Linked DNA regions of Homo sapiens: region 2 is linked to region 1. A link means that fine-mapping ties the variant in region 1 to the expression of a gene that starts in the linked region. Tissue or cell type: tibial nerve. Region 1 holds a variant in brackets; the other region holds the start of a gene. All regions are shown on one strand. Distances are between the middles of the regions.

Region 1 (11,194 bases):
TCAGGTTTATGGATGAGGGTTTTACATCATTCACTCCACAAGAAAAAACAAACGACATGACCAAAATGCCTCTTTTCACCCAACCTTTAAGAATCTATTTGCTGCCTTTGTGCTATGCACTGTCAATAATTTTTTGCTGTCTCTGAAAACCTAGAAATAAATATAGCTTCACTGTTAGTTTTCCAGTTTTCAAGGAATAGCTATTATGTAAGGAGTTTGGACTGAGACAGTCCCAGAATGTGGACAATGTCTAAGAAATGAGCACTATAAGGATAAAATAAACAAGAATCCACATAAAATGGATCCAATTGGTATTTACATCACCTCCCCCCTCAAGAGAAGAATTGTAAATGTTCTGTTGGATAGAATTAGGAAATAGACAACTCCAATCTGAACTGTGGCAGGGTGGGGAGAAAGGGGCAGGATTACGTTTGGAATAAAACTGTATTGTTGCATCAAAGTTTGTAAAAATAGAGGCACTGAGTGTAATTATCTGTGAATACTTATTCTGCACAAATATAAACTGAATTGGGAATCATTTAATATTTCAATCTCTAATAAGGTGTATTGTGTGGTAAGGCAAGAATGATTCATGTATTTAATAGACACAGAGCACTGACTATAAGCAGGCAGTATGCCAAGGACTGAATATACAAAGCTGAGCACAAGATCTCTCTCCTTCCATAGGGCCTGCAAGTTAGCAGAGAGCACCTGGTATGCCAAGAACTGAATATACAAAGCTGAGCACAAGATCTCTCTCCCTCCGCAGGGCCTGAGAGTTTGGAGGGCGCCTCGGCTCTGTTTGCAGAACGCACATTATTCACTCAGGTCCCTGCTAGAACACTGGCCCCTCAGAGGGCAGGGAAAATGACTATGCTGTTTGCCAGTTTATTCCCAGTGTCTGGGAGATGCTTCACAAGCTTCTGCTTAGTAAATGAGTGTGTTTGTTCAGTATCCGCTTTGGGCAGGGCACCATGAAATAAATGTCATCAAGGGCAAGAAGTGATTCTCCAAGCTTCTGTGCAGCCTGGAGTGGTCCCCCTTATCCTTGGGGGATATGTTCCAAAACCCCTGGTGGATATCTGAAACCATGGATAGTATTGTACCCTATTTATATTATGCACAAATTTCTTTTTCTGTCTTTACAATTTAACAGATATTTGTTCTTACTATAAGTCTTAGCAAACTTAGCATTCAACTTATTTTCTTTCCTTATTAAGACAAGGACTTTCACCTTTTCACTTAAAGGAAGCACTTTTCAGCTTCTCTTTGGCATATCCGAATTGCTAGAGTCACTACTCTTGCACTTTGGGGTCATTATTAGGTAAAATAAGGGTGACAAACACAAGTGCTGCAATACTAGGACTAAGTGATTCATGGATACTCGGGACAAAGAGAATATTCACATCCTGGATGGGACAGGGCAGGATGGCATGAGATTACATCACACTGATTAGAATGGCATGCAACTGAAAATGAATGAATTGTTTATTTCTGACATTTTCCATTTAATATTTTCAGACTGTGGTTGACTTCTGGTAACTGAAACCTCAGAAAGCAAAACCACCAATAAGGGAGAACTATTGTACTTATTTTTCTTACCTGTAATATGGTCTGCTGGACACTTTAGAAAAAAAAAAGGCTGTTTTTAACTTCAAATCACTGAAGCCGTATTCTTGATGTATTTTCATCCTCAGATGTAAAAATATACCATTTCTAAGGAATGGATTAGTTCTTGGTCATGGGTTAGTAAAAGGGAAACCATTATAACAACAGCATCTACTTACTGAACATTATTTACTAATAATGATCTGCCAGGCCAGAGTTAAGTTCTACACACACATACACACATGCACACACACACACACACATATACACACACACCGTAATGGTGAAATGTGCCGACTACTAGATATTTATAAAATAATTTTAGGTAGTATATAGACTAACCTAAAATTTTTGTTAGACATAGATTTATTTTAATGTGTTTTAGGAAAAAATGTAATGACATATTAAATCAGTGATTTCATGGATATTTGGAATATGATTTAGGATGAGGCCAAGCTCTCTTCACCTCTAAATACACTGATTTAGACACAGTTCAAGGAAGAAAATATCAAGCATATACTAGTACAGGTACTATTGCAGACGACAAAAATCATGAAGGTGGTATGCAAGATTTGCCTCCTTGGCCCCTCTGCCTGATTTCATGGGATACTAAAAACAAGCAGGGAAGGCAGGAGGGCCAAGGTCACAGTGTGGACGCGCACGGGCTCTGAAGTCAGACTTCTAGGGTCACATCCCGGCTCTCCTGCTTGTTCCACTCTCTAAGCTTGGGCAGGTCACTTGGCTTTTCCATGTGTCGGTTTCCTCATCTGCAAAATGTGGGTGATGATAGCATCTACCTCACGGGGCAAAATAGAGATTCAAAGACAGGTGTCTTTGATATCAAAAGCTACATCCTGACCTCTCCGGGGCTGGCAAATGAGTTTTAGCTTATGTGCCAAATTAACGGATTAGAAGAAGGCACCTGTGGCACCAAGTTGACAAGTATTTGAGGCTTCATGAGAAAAAGTGACCGATGGATGTGAGATATCTGCCCTGCGCTCTGCTGCTCTCTGCCTGCAGGACTCTGTCACCAGCTCGAAGCTCAAACTGCAAGTGGACCCACAGGACGTGCACTGGGAACACACAGTAACCCAATTGGTTGGGTTCTTTCTACATTTTCTTATTGATTTTACCACTAATTCTGAGAGAGACATACCATTGTCTAACAATAAAACTTCCACTTTAAAATTAACATAGGTTGCATAAAAGTGTTTTTCATGCATCAAATGTTATTAGGTACCTCTTCAGTTATTTTCTACAAAGAATACTTATTTAGACATTTCAGTAACCTTAGCAGTAAGTCAGATTTTCTGAAAGAAAAAGGAAAAGAAAGAAGGGAGAGGAGGGAGGGGAAGAGTGGGGAGGAAGGGAAAGAAAAGGTGAAGGAAGAGGAGGGGGAGGAGGTGAGCAGCAGCAGTATGGGTACCCCAGATACCAGGGGCTGATCTTGGTCAGCTGTTGGCGGAGGCTGTCAGTGCATCCTCCCAATTTTGGAAGTTCTCAGAAACAATGAGTGGGTCCAACACAAACTGACCCTCCCCAGGTGTTTGCTCCAGCCCAAGCAAAAGACAAATGCACTATCACAATCAGATCAATAGCCTTTTGAAGCATATTGGAGCGACAGGCCCAAGTGGGCCCTTTCAGGAGATGGTAGACCCAGTCTCTCCTACTGCACTGGGACTACTTTCTGCGAGCAATTCCCGCTGGGTCTTGCCATCATCTTGGTACTCATCTAGCCATCTGCCATGCAAAAAAAAGAAGATAATTAATATGAGAGAGCATTGAAAGGAGGCTCATTAGTTAGAAAGGAAAAAAAAACATATGGAAAGAATTTAAAGAGGCCTTTAGAGAGATCAGAATTTTAAAAAAGGATTTAAGATTTTAAGCCACACCAGATTATTTAGCAGTCCAGCTTCGGCAAGTTTTTTCCTACACTCAAATTGCAAAGTCATATTGGTTCACTCTAAAATTTTGGCTTTTAGAAAAGTCCTCTGGTAACATTACAAATATTCTAACATAGTCAAAATTTCTCACTTGGAGTTTCCTTAGTGGTAGCTGTTATTTTCTCCTGTCATGTGACTGGCAGGTATACACAGTGGCTAAACCCTCAGACTCTAGGACAGCACTCTTCAAGAGAACTAGAATACAAACCATATATGGAAAGAAGTAAAAAGAAGGTAAAATTAATATTTTGAATTTTCATAAATTCAAAAGATTATTATTTCAACATGTAATCAGTATAAAAATTGTATCACATTCTTTTTTATTCTCCACTCTTGAAATCTGGAATGTATCTTATACCTACATTGGAAGAGCCACAGTTCAGTAGACATATGTGGCTTGTGGCTCCCATGTGAGACAGTACAGTTCTAGAGTCAAATATATTTTGATCTGAATCCTGACTCCACCAATTATTAATATATTCAGGCAAAAAATTTACTATCTTTATATTTCAAAGACAATTTCCTTGTCTTTGAAATATAAATATCACAGAGTCTACCTGTAGGCTGGCTGTGGGGATCAAATGAGTATCTGTGTGCAGTTCTGGCTTTACCATGAAGCCTATTCCTTGGAAAGCATTCAGTAAATGCTAGTGATGGATATTCTTCTGATTTTTCTCTACAGCAATACAACAGATGGGTGCAGAAATCTTAGAGGCTCCCACAACACAAAATGTAACCCCTCTATATCTTGGTTATTTTGAAACTCCACAAATAAAGTTATAAATAACCTCCTTCTCGGAGACCTTTTCTTTTCCCATAATTAGAAGGGGACTTGCATTTAAGTACTTGATAATCTATACTGCGGAAGACAGTAAAGCTTATGTCATCTAAATGCTCCAAACACTCCAGAAAGTAGAACTTTCTGACAAAACAATTTTATAGTAAACTTGATATCTTGTGCAGGGAATTCTTCAGTAGAAGATAATTCACAAAATCATAGTTATATCATAGAAACAACAGATTGATAGACACTAAATTAAAACTTTCCAGAGGGCCAAGGAACCAAGAGCCCCTGCTTTCTGACTAATGGGTCTGAGGTGTGCATGCCATTAATCTCATTAGGTCACAGTTTGCCCATCTGTCAAACAAACCATGAAACTAAATGTTATCTATGGTTTCTTCCACTTCTGATGGAATAGCAAGATAATTTTTTAATACTTATTTAACCCTGGGTCCTCAGAGAGAAAAGGCAAGGAAAACAGTTTATATTGCTATAGTTAATGATAACAGTGCAATGATACACCAGTGTGCATATCATTCCATATGATAGTATGATACAATAAACCATCTTAAATATTTTCATCTGCGTCATTTTGTTTCTGTAAGTCCAATTTCTAGGGTTTGTGATTATTCTAAAATGTAGAAATAAGTCACTTTCATGATTTCTACTCCTCTGCATTGCCAGTAAAATTAATTTTGGCTTGGAAGAGAATGTGACCATTATCACCTGCCCTGGATGCCTTTTGACTTTGCTAAATGTGGCACTTCTAGAAAAATAATAATCTTATATTTACTACTTACATTATTTCATTGGTACCATCACATTCAGAGCAATAAACTACACTGTAAAATATTAAACACAGCTTCATATGATACCAAATATCTAGATGTGATATAAAACCAAATGTTGTATATATACTGGCCAATATGGTAGTCACTAACCATCTGTGTCTATTCAGCACTAGAAATGTAGCTAGTACAACCAAGCAACTGAATTTTTATTTGATTTGATTTTATTAATTTAAATTTAATTAGCCATATGTGACTAGTGGCTACCATATTGGACTGTGCAGATACAATATTTAAAAAGTAAAACTTAGTCAATTATTTGAGAGTTCTAAATACTAGACACATGATCTAGAAACAAAGGTGTGTTTTCTCCCTTCATTTGCATGTGTAGTATCATGTCTAAAAATTTCTTTAAAATTGTTTCTGTGACAATAACATTTACCATCATGGAGCCTCTAATAATTGCAGGACACTTTTGTAGGTACTTTATATACATTGTCTGAAATCCTCAAACAACCCTGCAAAATAGGTGTCATTACTGCCATTTTACATAAGAATAAACTGAGGCTCCCAGAGCTAGTAAGTAATGCCATTATAATCCAAATCTGGTGCTAAAAAACTTCAATCTTTGCCCCTTCTATTCCCTATTCACTAAGATTTCTTTCAAAAATAAAAATACAAGGTCTCTTCCTAGAGCTTGAATTTCATAAAATGGCAATAGCTACTACTACATGCACTTTAAATGGAAGTGCATTGAGAAAAGAAACAAACAGATGATCAGAGAAGTGCTACACATTTTGTTCATACAAAATTCAACTCCTTATTAAGTTTCAAAGGAATGACTATTTCCTAGAATCGAAACTATAGTAAGGTAAAATCCAGTCAGTCAACCAATGTGCATCTCTGCATATCTGAAGAGTGTCCCTCACTTTAGGGAATAGTGATGCTGAGCCACCTACTAAATTCAGAGCACACTCAGCTCTCCAGCTTCATGTAGCGTTACATCTCTCCTCCCTTATTGAGCATCAATTGGAAGTTCTTTGAAGACAAG[A/T]ACTCTACTTTTTTATCTCTAAATCTCTAGGATTTGGTATAGTACCTAACACCTAGCAGGCAGGCAATATTTTTTCATAAATAAATGGATGGATAAATTAACATATTAAATGGATGGATAAATTAATATATACAATGCATGAGTTCTCTAGATTCAAGGAACATGCAATCACATAGACATAGCACCTTGACACCCAGGTCTTCACAGCATATATAAGCCTCTCTCATTGCCCTCATGTCGTTAACATTTCCCATGTTCCCATGTGGGGACCATAGGTCCTTGCCGACAGAAACTGGATTGCCTTATTGATGGATCTCCATTATCTATCCCACTTCTTGATATGGTGGGTGGTCAATTACTACTTGCATAATGACTGATCAAATGGATCAACATATTCTGTAGATTGGTTAATAATGGAGGGAACTTAACTACATAATTTCTATGTTTAGTGCATTTTGTTTTAAGGTGCATTTGATATTCTACTTATTATAACTCTATAAAGTAGGTAGAGAAGATTTAATCATTCTCATAAAACTTTGAAACTGAGAATCAGAAGTTTAAGAGATTCACCTATGACCACCCGGCCAAGGAATTACAGTTACCCTTGCCACTTAAGTCTCCTGTTATATTACATCTACGCCACTTTAGTACAATGCATTAGAGTTCACAGTTCACATATATAACATCATTTGAGTTTAAATGATTCAAATGAACTAGGGGAAGCAGGTATTATTGCCATCTTCCATATGAGGACATTGAACCTCAGAGAAGTTAAGAGTGGTACCCAAGTTCACAGTACTAGCAGGGAGCTTAGCATGTGTTTTAGAAACAGAAAGAAGAACCTGTTTTCTAAGTCCTAATCCAATTTCTTTCCATTTCACCATACTTTTTTCAGAAGAGAAAAATGTTAGAGATTACAAAAGAAGAGAGAATTACTAGTGCTGATAAAGGACAGCTTCTTGAGGAGAGAAGGCCTTCAGCTCTGGTTTTCAGGGAGGGAATGATGTTGTCCAACAGCTGGGATGAGGCATGCTGGAGGACACAGGTGGAATAAATTGGACAAAGAGAGCATAATTTTGCATAATAATGCATTAAGAGCATACCTGTTGCATAGAAACAGCACCTCTTCACTGCTGTCTTCATCTTCAGACTTAACAACAATACTCCCAAGAAACCATCCATTACCTGTGTCAGTTGACAAAGGAGATTTATTTAACTCTTTAGCTTAAAAATACCAGCATTGTGATTTTATTCATAGGTCCTCCAAATGTTCCTTTTTAAGTACACATGTCAAGGTACAAAAATATGCACATGCAAATTATGCCCGTAGAGAAATGAAAATGTGAGTGAGCAACCTAATTACTCAGAGTACTAGAAGCAGAGGACAAGAGAAGATAGGGACCCAAACTCTCTATAAAATTAAAAAAAAATTATTTAAAAACACATGAGCCAAGAATAAAGAGAGAAGTAAATTCACATAAATGCATTTCAGTTATGTTAAGTCATAGAAGATTTATAAGTTTAAATAGTAATGGAAAGTCACAATCAATCATCATTCTTAATAGTGAAAATTTAGAAGTTATTGATTACTGTACTTGTCAATACAATTAAAGAAAGAAAAAATGAAAGTAAGGAAAGAAGGGAGAGAGAGAAGGAGGGAAGAAGGGAGGAAGGAGAGGAGGGAAAGAAGAAAGGAAAAGGAAAACTGATAAGTATAGAAAAAAGAGACAGAACTGTCATTATTCACAGAAGATATGACTTAACTTAAAAACCCAAAGAAATCACAGAATATAGAATTAAGAGTGATGAGAAAAATTGTTAGAAATATAATTAATACATAAAAATCCAGTGTATTTCTATTAACCAGAGAGAAAAGGTTAAAAAGCATAATTTAATAAAAGTTACAATGTTGAATTGCTATAAAAATTTAAGAATTTGGGAGTAAATTTAAAATCAGATGTAGTATAATTTATAGAAAAATCATCTAAATGTAGGAAATGACAGCAAAAAAAGCCATAAATAAATGTAGAACTATCTCATATTGGTAAGTAGGAAGATATCATAAAGATGTCAGTTCCTCATAAACTAATTCAAAACCTCAATGTAATTAAATCAAATTCACCAAAGTGTTTTACATGAAAATCCAGAAGCTGGTAATAAAATTCATGTGGATGATAAAGGCCCAAGAATATCACAAGCACTTCTGATCTTGAGTAAGGGAGGGGAATCACCCTACCACTTATCAACATTTATTGTAAATCTATACCAATCAAGGCAATGTGGAATTGGGGCTGGCATAGATAAATTGACTATGGGACAGAAAATGAATTCAGAATTAACCTTTCCCCTTCACACAAACTTGATACAGGCAGCGCTGCTCTGCACATTAGTGTGGAACCATAACAAGAACTGCAAGCTGAAACTATGCAAGCCATCTTAATAATCAACAGGGAAAAATTATGACTGCTTGATGATCTGTAAACATTTTTTCAAAACATCAAAAAATCTTTACTGTGAATTTAAAATGGCTATAAAAAATAAAAAGTAGCAACACTAATATTTAATGCACTATAATTTAAAACATTAGTAACACTGAAAATTAAAATGTTTTATTTTTTCTGTTTGGTGTTTGCCTTCTTTTTCTCATCATATAATTTATAATACAGAGGAAGCATCTTTTGCATCTTAGCAAATTATTAAACTCCTAAATTTGGATCAGCTTACAATATTTTTTTCTTTGTGTTTTCAATGTCATAAAATATCTCAGAATTCCTTTAAGTGAAGTTTTTATCGACACCTTCGTCCTTTTTGTCACCACCACCTTCCTCATCCATGGACATCAATTCCCCTCATTAATTTCCTCTTGCTGCGAATCTACAGTCTCTCAAATGGTGGCAGTGTCAACACTTTCATGGTGGTAAATTATGTCTATAACCCCATTTATTTTAGATTTGAACTTCACTTCCAGCATTGCCACTTTTCATTTCTTTGATACACTTTCATCTTTCAATTATATATTGTTATGAACTGTCACATGGATTCATTATTGGTAAACAAGGAAGCAACACAACTATACACTTTGCTGTCTAGGCATATACTGATAAGAAATGCACCATGACCCAGCACCAACAGACAGACATTGGAAGAAGTGATGTGACTGGTTGCTGATGAGAATGTGCATCTGTTATCCACATAGTGATTTGTAGACTAAAAAGCTGGCAGCAAAGTTTGTACTTATGCAATTGCAGTTACTACAGCATGGTAGCTGAAATTTGAACTATGCTGTTTGGGGATTTGTGTTAAATAAATCATTGCAACTGAAATTTGTGCATATAGATTCCATGCAAAGCAATGACTTCTTGTATAAAATAAAGATGACTTTGTAGAGCTCTCAAGTGAAGACGAAGCAGTCAATACAGAGTGGTAGTACAATTGATGATCCATACGGAAAAGAATGAAAGTTGATTCCATCCTCGTATCATACATAGAAATCAATTACAGATGGAGTAAAATTTTAAATCTTAAAAGCAAGACTTAAAATATATGTATGTGGATGTATAAACTGTAGTCATTAACATCAGGGACACATTCTGAGAAAGGCGTCATTAGGTGATTTCATTATCATGCAAACATTGTGAGCACTTACACAAACCTAGATGGTATCGTCTACTACACACCTAGGTGATATGGCACAGCCTATACTCTTAGGCTATAACCTGTTCAGCGTGTTACTGTACTAAATACTGTAGGCAACTGTCACACAATGGTAAGTATATGTGTTTCTAAACATAGAAAAGGTAATGTGTTTCACTGCAATATTGCAAAGGCAGTGATGTTACTAGGTGATAGGAATTTTTCAACTCCATGATAATCTTATGGGACTACCATCATATATGTGGTCCACGTTAACTGAAACATGGTTATGCAGCACATGATTCTGCATATATATATATATATATATATATATATATATATCCATTTGGAATACTCTGGGGGTAGAGAAGACTTTCTTAAATAAGACACAAAATATGCTGATAATTTAAAAATTATACTATACTCTTAAACTACTTTAAAATTAAGAATTTCAGCCATTAAAAATAACACTAACTAGAGAAGATACAGTGCCAGTCACTGCTAGTTGCTCTCCCTTTCTTGGCATTTCTGCAATGCGAGAGGCCCACATCTCCCAGATGTCTCTGCAGCCACAGATGAACTATGTGACTAGTTTCTCAGGAATGAAATGTGGCCGGAAGTCATATGCGCAGCTGCCATCTTCCATGCTCAAAAGACAGTGTTGCAGGGGACTTTCCGTCTTTCATGTGCTGTAACCAGCTCTGACCACACAGAGGAGAGGAGATTTAGGTGATGGAAGAATAGCAAGGTGGAAGGACCTGGTCCCTGATGGCTGGCTGGGAATGGCTCTCTCTTTGCGGCTGTTACCTGTGTGTGGAATACTCTGCTATCTTTAAAAAATCTTTTTTGTAAATCACTTTTTATTAGAGGACCTTTACCTTTACCCTAAATATTATGGACAAGAACATGTATTTCCACAGACAAAGAAATTCAGTTAAGGATAAAAAAAGAGAAGAAGAAAGAATGCTCACTGTTCCTAGAAATCAGGGTAATGCAAATTAGGGCCAAAGAGAATACTATTTTATACCAACTTACGTAAAGTAAAGGCAAAAATTAAGTGTACCAGGTGTTGGCGAGCATATGACGTAATAGAAGTTCTTATATACTGTAGGTAAGAGAAAAACTTAGTTGAATCACTTTTGAAACTAGTAGTTTATCTTAGAGACCCAGATATGATCATATCCTTTGACCTACCTAGCAACTGACTTCTACGGATTTACCTTAGAACCTGAGGTTTCTTAGCCTCAGCTCTGCTGACATTTGGGGCCTGATAATTCTTTGTTGTGTGACTCTCTTGTGGTGGTAAAATGCTTAGCAGTATCTCAGGCTTCTACCCACTATGTGCTGGTAGTAACACCTACCAGCTGTGACAACCAAAACAGCCTCCAGA
Region 2 (10,373 bases), 230 kb before region 1:
TAAGCTCAAGTCTCTGTTTTACTGTTTAACTACCAGTGTGTTATTGGAAAGATCCCCTAATCCATCTAAACTGCAGCTCCCTTTCCCACTTTGCCATCCACAGTGAAGGTAAATTGTTATTTTTATACATTGTTGTCATCATTATCCAAGTTGGCATTTGGAGGTAGCCAGTTCAGCCAGAAAAAGCATAGACTGTATGGTAAAATGGGCCCCGTTTTTAATCCTAACTACACTACATAATAGTTGGGTGACCCTATTAAGAGGTTAAGCCGCTTACTTAACCTCTCTGAGACAGTTGTCTCACATATACAGATACTAATAATTTTCTTTTAGGTTATTTTAAAATGTAGATGACATAAAAAGTAGAAAAAAACATTTGTATATTTTTAAAGTGCCAATAAAATTGTTATTATTTTTGTTTGGCCAGTTTTAAGAATGGCATATTTATCCAAGTGCTTTGCATGCATCATTATAAGAATGTTTAATAGATGTGACTTTAAAAACTTAACTGATAACTGTACCTTAGCTTATAAAAGGCTCTGAGAAGTCCTGCTGTAGAGAGAGCTGTTTAACTTTGTTTAATCTGTCATTTTCCCAACTTATTTGAACATGGGACACAATCAGTGCCTTCTGGAATAGCAAGCATGACAAGAGCAGAAAAAACTGCATTTTCCTCACATTTTTCCCAGATGACTCTCATGATGGAGACTCAAAAACAAAACCCAGAAGAGTAAGAATAGTGAAAATGCTCCCCACTCTACCATCCACTGACTCATTATTTACAATGTGCATATTTTCTGGAAAATAATTAACTATGTACATACATACATAGGAGAAATTCAGGTAGAGTTTTAAGAGTAAACTTCATAATTTCTGAAGGAAAAAGACATTTGGAGGCAATTGATCAAAAGCATGAGGACTAAAAACTGTTCTCTTAGGGAATTTGTGATTCCCACTGGCTAAACTGCACTCTTAGTAATTTCTGGAATCATATGAGAAAAATAAGAAAGGAAAGTACTTTCGCATTCATTCACAGGCACAGTTCCTTTAAAGTCATAATTGCTCTTTTCACATGGTAGCAAAAATTCACTTTATTATTTCAAATAGCTCTTTCCCAAGCTCACCTCCTGCGACTTTAAAAGCTGCCATTAATTTCCCATTAGTAAACTTTAATTAAAATGAATATGTATCATTGCTTTTAGCAGTTGCATTGTAACATATGTATAAATACATGCAAATCTTACCCACAATGTTTCAATGGCTATTTCTAAACAAGCAAATGCTTTGATGTTATTTCAAAAGACTGTATTTAGAGAAAGCTTTTAGAATCTGGTCCTTCCCTAAAATAATTAGAATTTCATGGAAACACAAGAAGCAGTTACCAACCTAGCTAAAATCTATTTTATTGATCCCAGAAAGTAGCATGTTAAAACATGAATAATGACCTCTGTGCTTTGAACCACTCAGTACTCTGGTGTTTCTGCAATATTTGTGTATAATGTATTGAAAAGAAAAGCTAGAAGAGGCACAGGGATGCTTCTAATTTAAGGAATCATAGTGAGTCTAATAGAAAAATCTGAGATGAGTTGCACTTCGTCGGCTTATTAGCAAAGATGCGTCTACTCCCCCAAAGTTCCACATGAATGTTCAACACTCAGAGAAATAGAAACATATTAGAGCGCATCTGAGTGTTAAGTTCCATAAGCTTTCTTATCCCTTTCCAACTTCCTACATTAGGCTAAAGTTTTGTTTTTTTGAAAAATATACTTCATAAACAGAAAATGATGCTGATTAGTCTTAGATCACGCTTTCACCAGATTACTCTGGCATCCCCCAAATATTTTAATCAGAATCTGAGAATAGTTAGATTAGATGATAATTCAAACTTATCTACTACACACATTATTCTGAAAATGTTGACAAATATTTCCAGAATATTATATCTGATAATATTTCCAACTACAATATTCCTCCTAGATGATCATGCATTATCAGTATTAACTTTAAAGCCTCTAAGGAAAATACTATAGAAATGCTTAACTAAAAGGAGCCATGTGTGACCACAGTTTCTCCAAGTCTGGGTCAGTTAATACATTTGTCTGACAGCCTGCGGTTTTCTTTCTACATTCAAACCTTACCCTTCCATCCCTTCTCTCCCCGCCCCCACTCCCTACCTCTGAAATAACTTTTCTGTATGATAAGTTGGCCCAGTGGCTATGGTCTCTCTGACATGTTTTTAGGCTCATATCTTTTCCTAATTATTTCTCACATTCTGTATATTATTCCCCTAGAAAATTAAGAATCATTTTTCAATTGGGGAGATGTTTGGTTTAGAAGGTATAGTAAACACAACTATAATTAAAAGGACTTCCTCGGTTCACAGAATTTAATATCAGATTTTTCATAAAGAATCAATCTGTAAAAAAAATTACAGTTTTTCAGTTAACAGGATAGAGAAGTATTTGAATTATTTACATAAGTCTAGAAACTTGAAAGGTGGTTAAAATTAAGTGATTTCCAAATCTTGATAAAGTTTGAAAAAGTTAACAAATGGAATGTTAAGCTTAATTTACCAAATTATCAGATTAGAAATGCTAATCAGATGCATCCTAGCCAGTCAGTAATTTCAGTAAGTAAATTAAGCACTTAAGTCCTTCATCATACTTGAAGAGCATCAAGCTATAAGTCTTCCCAATAGTCATCCATGGGAAATATAGCTATCATATTTAACTAGAATTTCAAAAAGTTACTTTGAGTCCAAAATATGTATGAAGGTTCCAACATCAATTTGTCTGACTACATATCAAATATCACTTTTTCAGAAAGTGTGTGCTTGAAAAAAAATGTTTCACAATCTGGAAGGTCACCATCTATGGCAATGTTCAGTCTGCTTTACAAAGCTCTGGTCCCAGGAAAGGTTGTGAAATCACCACACTTGCTCTTCTCAGGTGAACATATGGTTGTTCATCATAAATAAAAAGAAGTTTGTGGTTCTAGTCCACAAATCCTCTAACTTGTTTCCACAGGTGATACTTCGGCATAGTCAAGAACTCACATCTTTTATCACAAAAATAGCCACAAATAAAATTGAAAAAGAGCACCAGTACCACAGAGTGTAGTCCCATATTGGTGTACTTTCTAGGAATTGTCCTCATTTCGCTTATACCACCTGTTTACTAAGTTATTTTAAAACCAAAAAAGCTCTGACATGTTAGAATCTATAGACTTCCATATAAGTAATTTTTATAGATGTAAAATATTGCTTCGAAATCTGCTAGTAGCATATAAAAGTCAAAAGAATGTATTCCTGAGCATACTATTTCATTCTGCTCCTAAGTCCATGCAGTGACTGTTCAAGTGGTGGTTTCCCTCTGCCCAAGTTTAGCCTTGTATTCCAGTTTATAACTGAAGTGATCCCTGTGTAAAAAGACTTGGTAGATCAGATGACAAGCAGCAAAGTAGCCAACGAAGATACCAAGTACAACTAAAGTTAACATGGTGCCCCACCCCTTTTCCAAAGGCTTGTAATTATATGAGAAATTAGATATGGAGATATTGCAAGATAATCAGAAAGGGCACTCTAAAAGTAAATCTGGGCCCCATAAAGCTTACTGAATCATGCTCGGGGATATATATATATATATATATATATATATATATATATATATATACAAAGTCATTTGCCTATTAGGATCTTTACTTTGAGTAAAGCACTTCTCCAGCAGTGATCATTAATATGTGGGTACTTTTGAGCAGCAGCAACTCCCATTTCACTAGAATTAGCAATTTTTTTTCCCCAGGGAACAAAAGAAACCATCCAAATGGCAACACACACCTCAAATTCAATATAATAATAAAGGAATTTTAGAAGATGTGACAGGAATCCTCTCCTACTCACTGAAACAATATCACTAAAAATGGGGAAGCGGGGAGGGGGGTTGTGGCATGCCAAGAGCAAGAAGCCAGTAAGGCAGAGTGGGAAGACAGAAGGGATGAGGTGATCGAAACCACTTTGCTGTCCTTCCCTTGCTTCTCACTTCCCTCCCACCCTAGACTGAGATTGCAAATTTTAAAAATGCAAGCCCCAGTTCAAAAGAAACCCAAAAAACTGGAAGAGTGTGACTAGGGTTACTACCAAAGCAACCCTGAAAGATTTCCGTGCAAAAGCAAAGCAGTGGGGATGTAGTAGCAGCAGCAAGCCTCCCTTTTCCCCCACCCATTACAGTACCTCCAGATTTGCCCGAGCTGCAAGATGTGGATGAGTGACTGCAGGAGCCAGATGCAGAAGGAGCAGGACGCAGACCTGTGCTTGCCACTGGCCCGGGTAGCCCCGCTGCTGTTGCTGCCGCTGTTGGCCGCGGCGATGTTGCTCTTGCTGGCGTTAGATGCTTGCCTTTGCGGCGTGGAAGGACGAGCCTCGCCTTCCCCGGCTGCAGACCCACCGCCGACCACCGTCTTGCAATCGGCTCCAGGCTGCGGGCAGCTGGAGGCAGCAGCGGCCGTGGCGCTGTCCTCGGTGCTGAAATCGTGCACAAACCAGCGGAAGCTGAACACTTGCACCGACAGAGAGCCGAGCACCACGAAGAAGAGCGTGAGCCCGAACCACCAGCGCTGGCCGCGCAGGTAGTAGTCCACGGCGAGCCAGACGTCTGTGCCCACGTCCGCGAAGTACACGGCCACGGCGGCCAGGATCCAGAGGCAGTCCCACAGTGAGTAGCGCCGCTGCTCCCTGCCCAGGCGCAGGCACAGCGCAGCCGAGCCCGCCCCGCCGCCGCCCGGGCCGGCGACGCCGCCGGAGCCGCCCGAGCCCGCGGAGCCGCCACTCCCGGCGCAGCAGCAGCAGCAGCGCGAGCAGCCGCCGCCGTCCGGGCAGCAGCCGCCCCCGGCCGCCTCCTCGTCCTCGGCTCCCGACCCCGACGGCAAGCCTGGAGCCAATCCCTGCACCGAGCCCGAGTGGTCCGAGTTCTGCAGCGGGGTGAACGCCACGTCGCTGCTTTTCTTCATTTTCAGCCTCCCGTCTGATTTAGCGGCCATGATGCCTCCACACCGGAGGAGAGCCCTCCTTTATCTGACACCTTTCCCCGCTGTCTCCTCCTCCCGCCACCTCCTCGCCTCGCCCCGGCTTCCCTCCCAGGCGGTGCGGCTCCCCCTCCTCCTGCTCCTGCGTCGGCTCGCCTGCCGTCCGCCGCCGCCCGCCGCCCGCCGGGCTGGGCGCTGGGCCGGGCTAGCGGCGCGCCTGGGGCCGGCAGGAGCGCCGCCTGGCTGCCTGCGCGGAGCCAAGCTGCTCGCGGCGCCCCGCGCGCGCCCCTGCCCGCCGCCCGCGCTCCTCGCCGTCCCGGCTTCGCTGCTGCCGCCCGAGCCGCCGCCGCCGCCAGCAGCAGGAGCAGCAGCGGCCGCCGCGGCGCTCCTCGGACCTGCACATTCCTCTCCTCCCCTCGCGCGCGCTCCCTCCTCCCGCTTCCTCTCCTCCACCAGCTGACTCCGAGGGAGAGGATGACCTCATCCCTTCTCTTCCAGCTGCCGTCGCTCCCACCCTGGCTCGGGAGGGGCGAGGGAGGAGGAGGGACCCGGAGGAGGGGCCGGGACCGAGAGGAGCGGCGGGCGGGGGTTGGGGGACTGCCCTGGCGGGTCCCAAGGGCCGGGAGGAGCGGCCAAGGGGGCCTGAGGGTGACAGTCGAAGGCCCCCACTCCCGGGATTTCGGAACGCTGGGTGGATTTGAGCGACACTGGGGGAGGGGGAGGAGCGCGCTGAGAGGAGGGGTCCCTGCGTGCAGCCCTCGCGGAGGACGGCGGAGAGTGGGCACGGACGGGTGTGGCGGCAGCAAGGGCCAGGGAGGAGCAGGCCTCTTTGTATTCCGGTCGGAGCCGCCAGCACCTGGAGAAGGGCTGGGAGCGCGGCTCTGGCCGACGATGGTGGGGAGAATGGGTGTAACTCGGGCGCCCGGGCTCGGAGGCCAGCAGCGGCAGTGGGCGTGCCCGGCCTTGCCAGAGAGTGCAGGGGAGAGAAAGGCGTACGGGGCTCGGAGCGCGGAGCCTGGTGCCGCGCCGGCAGCTGAGGGCGGGCGGGTCCGCTGGGAGCCCCGAGCCAGCGCCCTCGGTGGAGGCAGCCGGCATTCCGAGGGCTCCCGGCTTCTCCGGCGGGCGGGGGTGCCTGAGCTCAGGCAGGTGCGGAGGCGCTCCCGCCCTTCGCGGCCCAGGCCCCTGCCCGACGCCGGGGTCCCTCGCACGTTCTCGGCGGCTGGAAAGCTCTGAGCCGGGAGGAGCGGCAGCCCAGTGGGCACCGCACCGGCCCTCGAGGCGTCCTGCGGCAGGTGGGAAGCGCAGCACCCCTGGCGGCGGCGCGGGGCGCGGCCGGCAGCCGCGGGAAACCGAGTGCCACCCCACCCCCGGCCCGCGGGCGGGGAGTGGCGGAGCCCGGAGCAGGCGCCACCTCCCTTACTCCTTACTCCAAAACTAGAAATACCTTCTCTTAAAGCTATAGGGATTGCAAACTAGCTGTGTGGTCCCACAACTCCAGAAATGACTCGAAAAATTAAATCTGTGATCGGAGTGATTCAAGGAGAATACAAAATATGTTGTGGTTTTAAGAGATTTTTAAAACCTCAATAAAATATAGGATCTTCATTTTTTTAATAAGGAAACTTAAGCTTTGATTTGTCTCACTTAGCTTTTGCAAATGTAAGAAATAGAGAGTGTAATTCTTAAATTATACTGTGACTCACATACTTGGGAGGTAAGTGAGGCAACACGAGTTACACTGCCACTAGGAGCACCAGTTGGATCTTCTAAATCAGGAGGCAAACCATGACACCCCCCACCCACCCCCGCTTCTCTCTGGTAGGCGCCAGGTGAGTTCGAACTAGTACACAGTGCCATTCTTAATGAGTAACATTATGAAATAGAAGTGCACGGATTTCTCTGCACGTGGAAAGAGCCGCCTCACGCATTGTGTGCTACGTATCAAGGGCTGTGTCATCACCAACCTGGATAAAGTGGAATTTGCCCCACGCTCTGGATTCATTGCCTTTTATTCTCACAGACTGGTGCCCAGGACCCTCCCTTGGTTGGCCTTGACCTGACATTTTGGCAGGAGGGTGTTGAGTCATAGAGTCTCTACACGATTACATGGCATGTACAAATCCGGTATTTCTAGCGAAAGGAATAGCCAAGTGATGGCTGAGGGGCAACACAGTCCCACTAAGATGCTTAGTATGCCAGGCAAGCGGGTATATTTTTAAATCCAGCTTTAAAATTGGGTCTTCTTGGAGTAGAAGAATCCTTTTTTGGAAAACACCCTGATTCTATTTCTCCGGAGTCCAAATCTAAGATTCCATCTCCAGGGTGCTACTGCTGATCTTACTCTCTGCCAAACCACTAGGGAGAGAAATGATCTCTTAGGTAACTGGGTCCTAAGGGATGGAGTGTATTCTAGGTCAAATGCAGTGTCTTAAATTACACCAGGCATGAAAAGGCCCTGCAGAGTATCTGAGGTGCTGAAGACCTGGGGCTGACTAAAGGTTCCCCTAAAACAGGATGTTTCTTATTCGACTGTATCCTCTGCACCTGGCACAGCACATGCACAGACTATTTGCTCAATAAATATTAGTTGAGTGAATGCATGAATTTATAGAAAGAACATTCCATGACAGGAAGAATGCTGCATTCTGTGCTAACGAATGTTCCCATGGAAACACAGGAATTATGAAACTTTTTATGTTAGGTTCTAAAAAGAAATAACTAGTAACGGTTTCTTTATCAATACATTTATTCAAAAGTCTCTTTAAGGTTGCTGTCTGAACCATATCTGGAAAGTAATGGTGACGGGTAGTTAGTGGCAGGAGTTTACAAGCAGGAGGTCAGAGGATGAGCTTCACATCCAGGCTTTGCTAATTACTGGCCCCATGACCCTAGCAAATTAATACACAGGATTAATATGAGGATTAGATGAGATCATGTATATTACAGGGCTTTGTATACAATACTGTTCTCAAGAGTCTCTAATCTCATAAGTCTAGTAATCACATTTTAGGATATAGATTTTAATATTAACTGCTCTATCATAATCATTGCACCTGTCAAGGCAGGTGGACATAATGGTTGCAAGTTCAGAGTTTGGACTTATCTTTGTGCATGTTATTTAACTTGCCTGTCCCTCATGCTCATCGTTTGTTAAATAGAGACAATAATGATCTCTAGAATTTGGTCTTGTTGCCAGAAACAAATACTAATACTAATAACAAGGAGGCATGTGAACTGTTTAACGCTGTGTCCAGCACACTCCACACACAACATTCTGTTAATATCTTTCCTGTTTCTTCCAGCCCCCTCATGTCTTCTGGCTTCTAAACTTTTGTGTTTGGCTCTCCATCTCTACTTAAAACTAGAGTTCCTCAAAACACAGTCCTTGGACTACCTGCATCACAATCAGTTGTTGTTTCTTACAGATTCCTGGCCTATCAGAAATGTGATCTCTCCATCAATGATTTTGTCTTCCATCCAATCTGAGAGATTTATTCTCATTGTATAACCCAGGGGTCCCCAATTCCTGGGCCATAAACTGGTATAGGTCAGTGGCCTGTTAGGAACTGGGCCACACAGCAGGAGGTGAGCTGTGGCAGGCAGGGTGAAATTACCACCTGAGCTCCGCCGCCTGTCAGATCCGTGGAGGCGTTAGATTCTCATGGGAGTGCGACCCCTATTGTGAACTGCACATTGAAGGGATCTAGGTTGTGTCCTCCTTGTGCGAATCTAACAAATGCCTGATGATCTGAGGTGGAACAGTTTCATCCCAAAACCATCCCCCCAACAACCCCAGTGGAAAAATTGTCTTCCACAAAACCGGTCCCTACTTCCAAAAGGGTTGGAGACAGCTGGTATAACCTAAACCTTAGCATTACTCAACAGCTTCATAATCTCCACTTTACATACCTCACACTCTGATTAACCCCTCCTAACTCATGAGCTCACTCTCTCCTGTACCCCTGGACCTGTTTTCTACCTCCTTTTCATGTCCCTTAACCCCTTCATGCCCCCCCTTTCTTCTTACACGATGTAAATTCCATGCTCAATCATGATAGGCACCTCTCACACACTTCCTCATCTCTGTTGTCCCTCTTACTCGACAAAACACCAGCCCTGGTTAAACTCTGTTCTCCACCTACATCAGGCCTGACCCTGTGTAACTGGCTGTAGCTGGAGAAGGGGCGTGGCCCTGCACACTGCACTTCTTTCTATCCTGGACCTTTACCCTGAAGTGGACCCAAAGGCTGCTCCACAGTCACACCTCATCTTCCCAGTCCATTTGCATTCCTGCTCTTTTAAATTATGTCTTTTTATATTTTCCTTTCTCAAGCTTTAAACACCTCCTTCCCCATTCTTACTCTCCCCTGATGACTCTGCTTCCTATTTCACTGAGAAAGATGAAGCGACCAGAGCAGAACCCACACAAGCGTTCAGCACCTTCTCTGCCCACCTGCCAGCACGTGTACCACTCAGCCTCCTGCTCTACAAGGCCAACTCCCTTGCTGTTCACCAGCCCCCACCCCTCTTACTGCTCAAGAGCTCAATTCCACACTCATTGCTTCAATTATCAATGTTCCCTCTCTCCTGTACATCAGTGTACAAACACACTCCTATGTATCCACTAGTTAAAAAACAAAGCAAAACAAAACTTTTGATTCCAATTCCCTTTCTAGTCACCACTGCACTTCCCTGAAACCTTTTGCAACAAAGCTCTCTAAAGTTGCCTAAACTTGCTTTCTTCAATTCCTGTTCTTCGATCCTCTCTTGAACACATTCAAATAAACCAACAATTGCTCCACTGGAACTGTTCTTACCAAGTCGCTGGCAGCCTATTGCCACCTTACTGAACATTTCAGTCTCACCTTCCTTGACCCCCTAGTGGCATTTGACATGGTAGAACCTTCTCTTCTCAGTGAAATCTGCTCTTCCCTTGGCTTTCACTATATCACACACTCTGGGGTTTTCCCGTTTTGAAGTCTACTTCTTTGCTAATTCTGGGTCCCTTGCTAATTTCTTCTCATTTCTCCTACCTTTAAGCTGGTTCAGTCTTCATATCTTTCTCTACGTGTATTAGTCCATTCTCACACTGCTATAAGGACATACCTGAGACTGGGTAACTTATAAAGGAAAGAGGTTTAATTGACTCACAGTTCTGCAGGGCTAGGGGGGCCTCAGAAAACTTACAATCATGACAGAAGGAGAAGCAAACATGTCCTTCTTCACATGGCGACAGCAAGGAGAAGTGCTGAGTTAAGCAGGGGAAAAGCCTTTTTTAAAACCATCAGATCTCATGGGAACTCACTCACTATCACAAAAACAGCATGGAGGTAACTGCCCCTGTGATTCAGTTA

The links. PIP is the estimated chance that this variant, and not a neighbour inherited with it, causes the effect. A credible set is the group of variants that fine-mapping cannot tell apart.
Region 2: it holds the start of XKR4, and the variant in region 1 is the best candidate, but not a certain one, in a credible set for the expression of XKR4 in tibial nerve (GTEx, PIP 0.80).

What each region holds. Positions count from the first base shown.
Region 1 is chr8:54,861,997-54,873,190 of GRCh38, reverse strand. It overlaps a transcript of RP1 not described here. Among named protein-coding and RNA genes, the nearest start is that of XKR4, 230 kb to the left of the region's middle. The variant A/T (reference allele first, on the strand shown) is at 6,172.
Region 2 is chr8:55,097,150-55,107,522 of GRCh38, reverse strand. It overlaps XKR4 (XK related 4), which reads right to left and starts at 5,495. Exons shown (of 3, transcript NM_052898.2): 1 at 4,229-5,495. The coding sequence starts at 5,034. RefSeq lists enhancers at 3,839-4,504, 5,173-5,840 and a silencer at 6,252-6,421.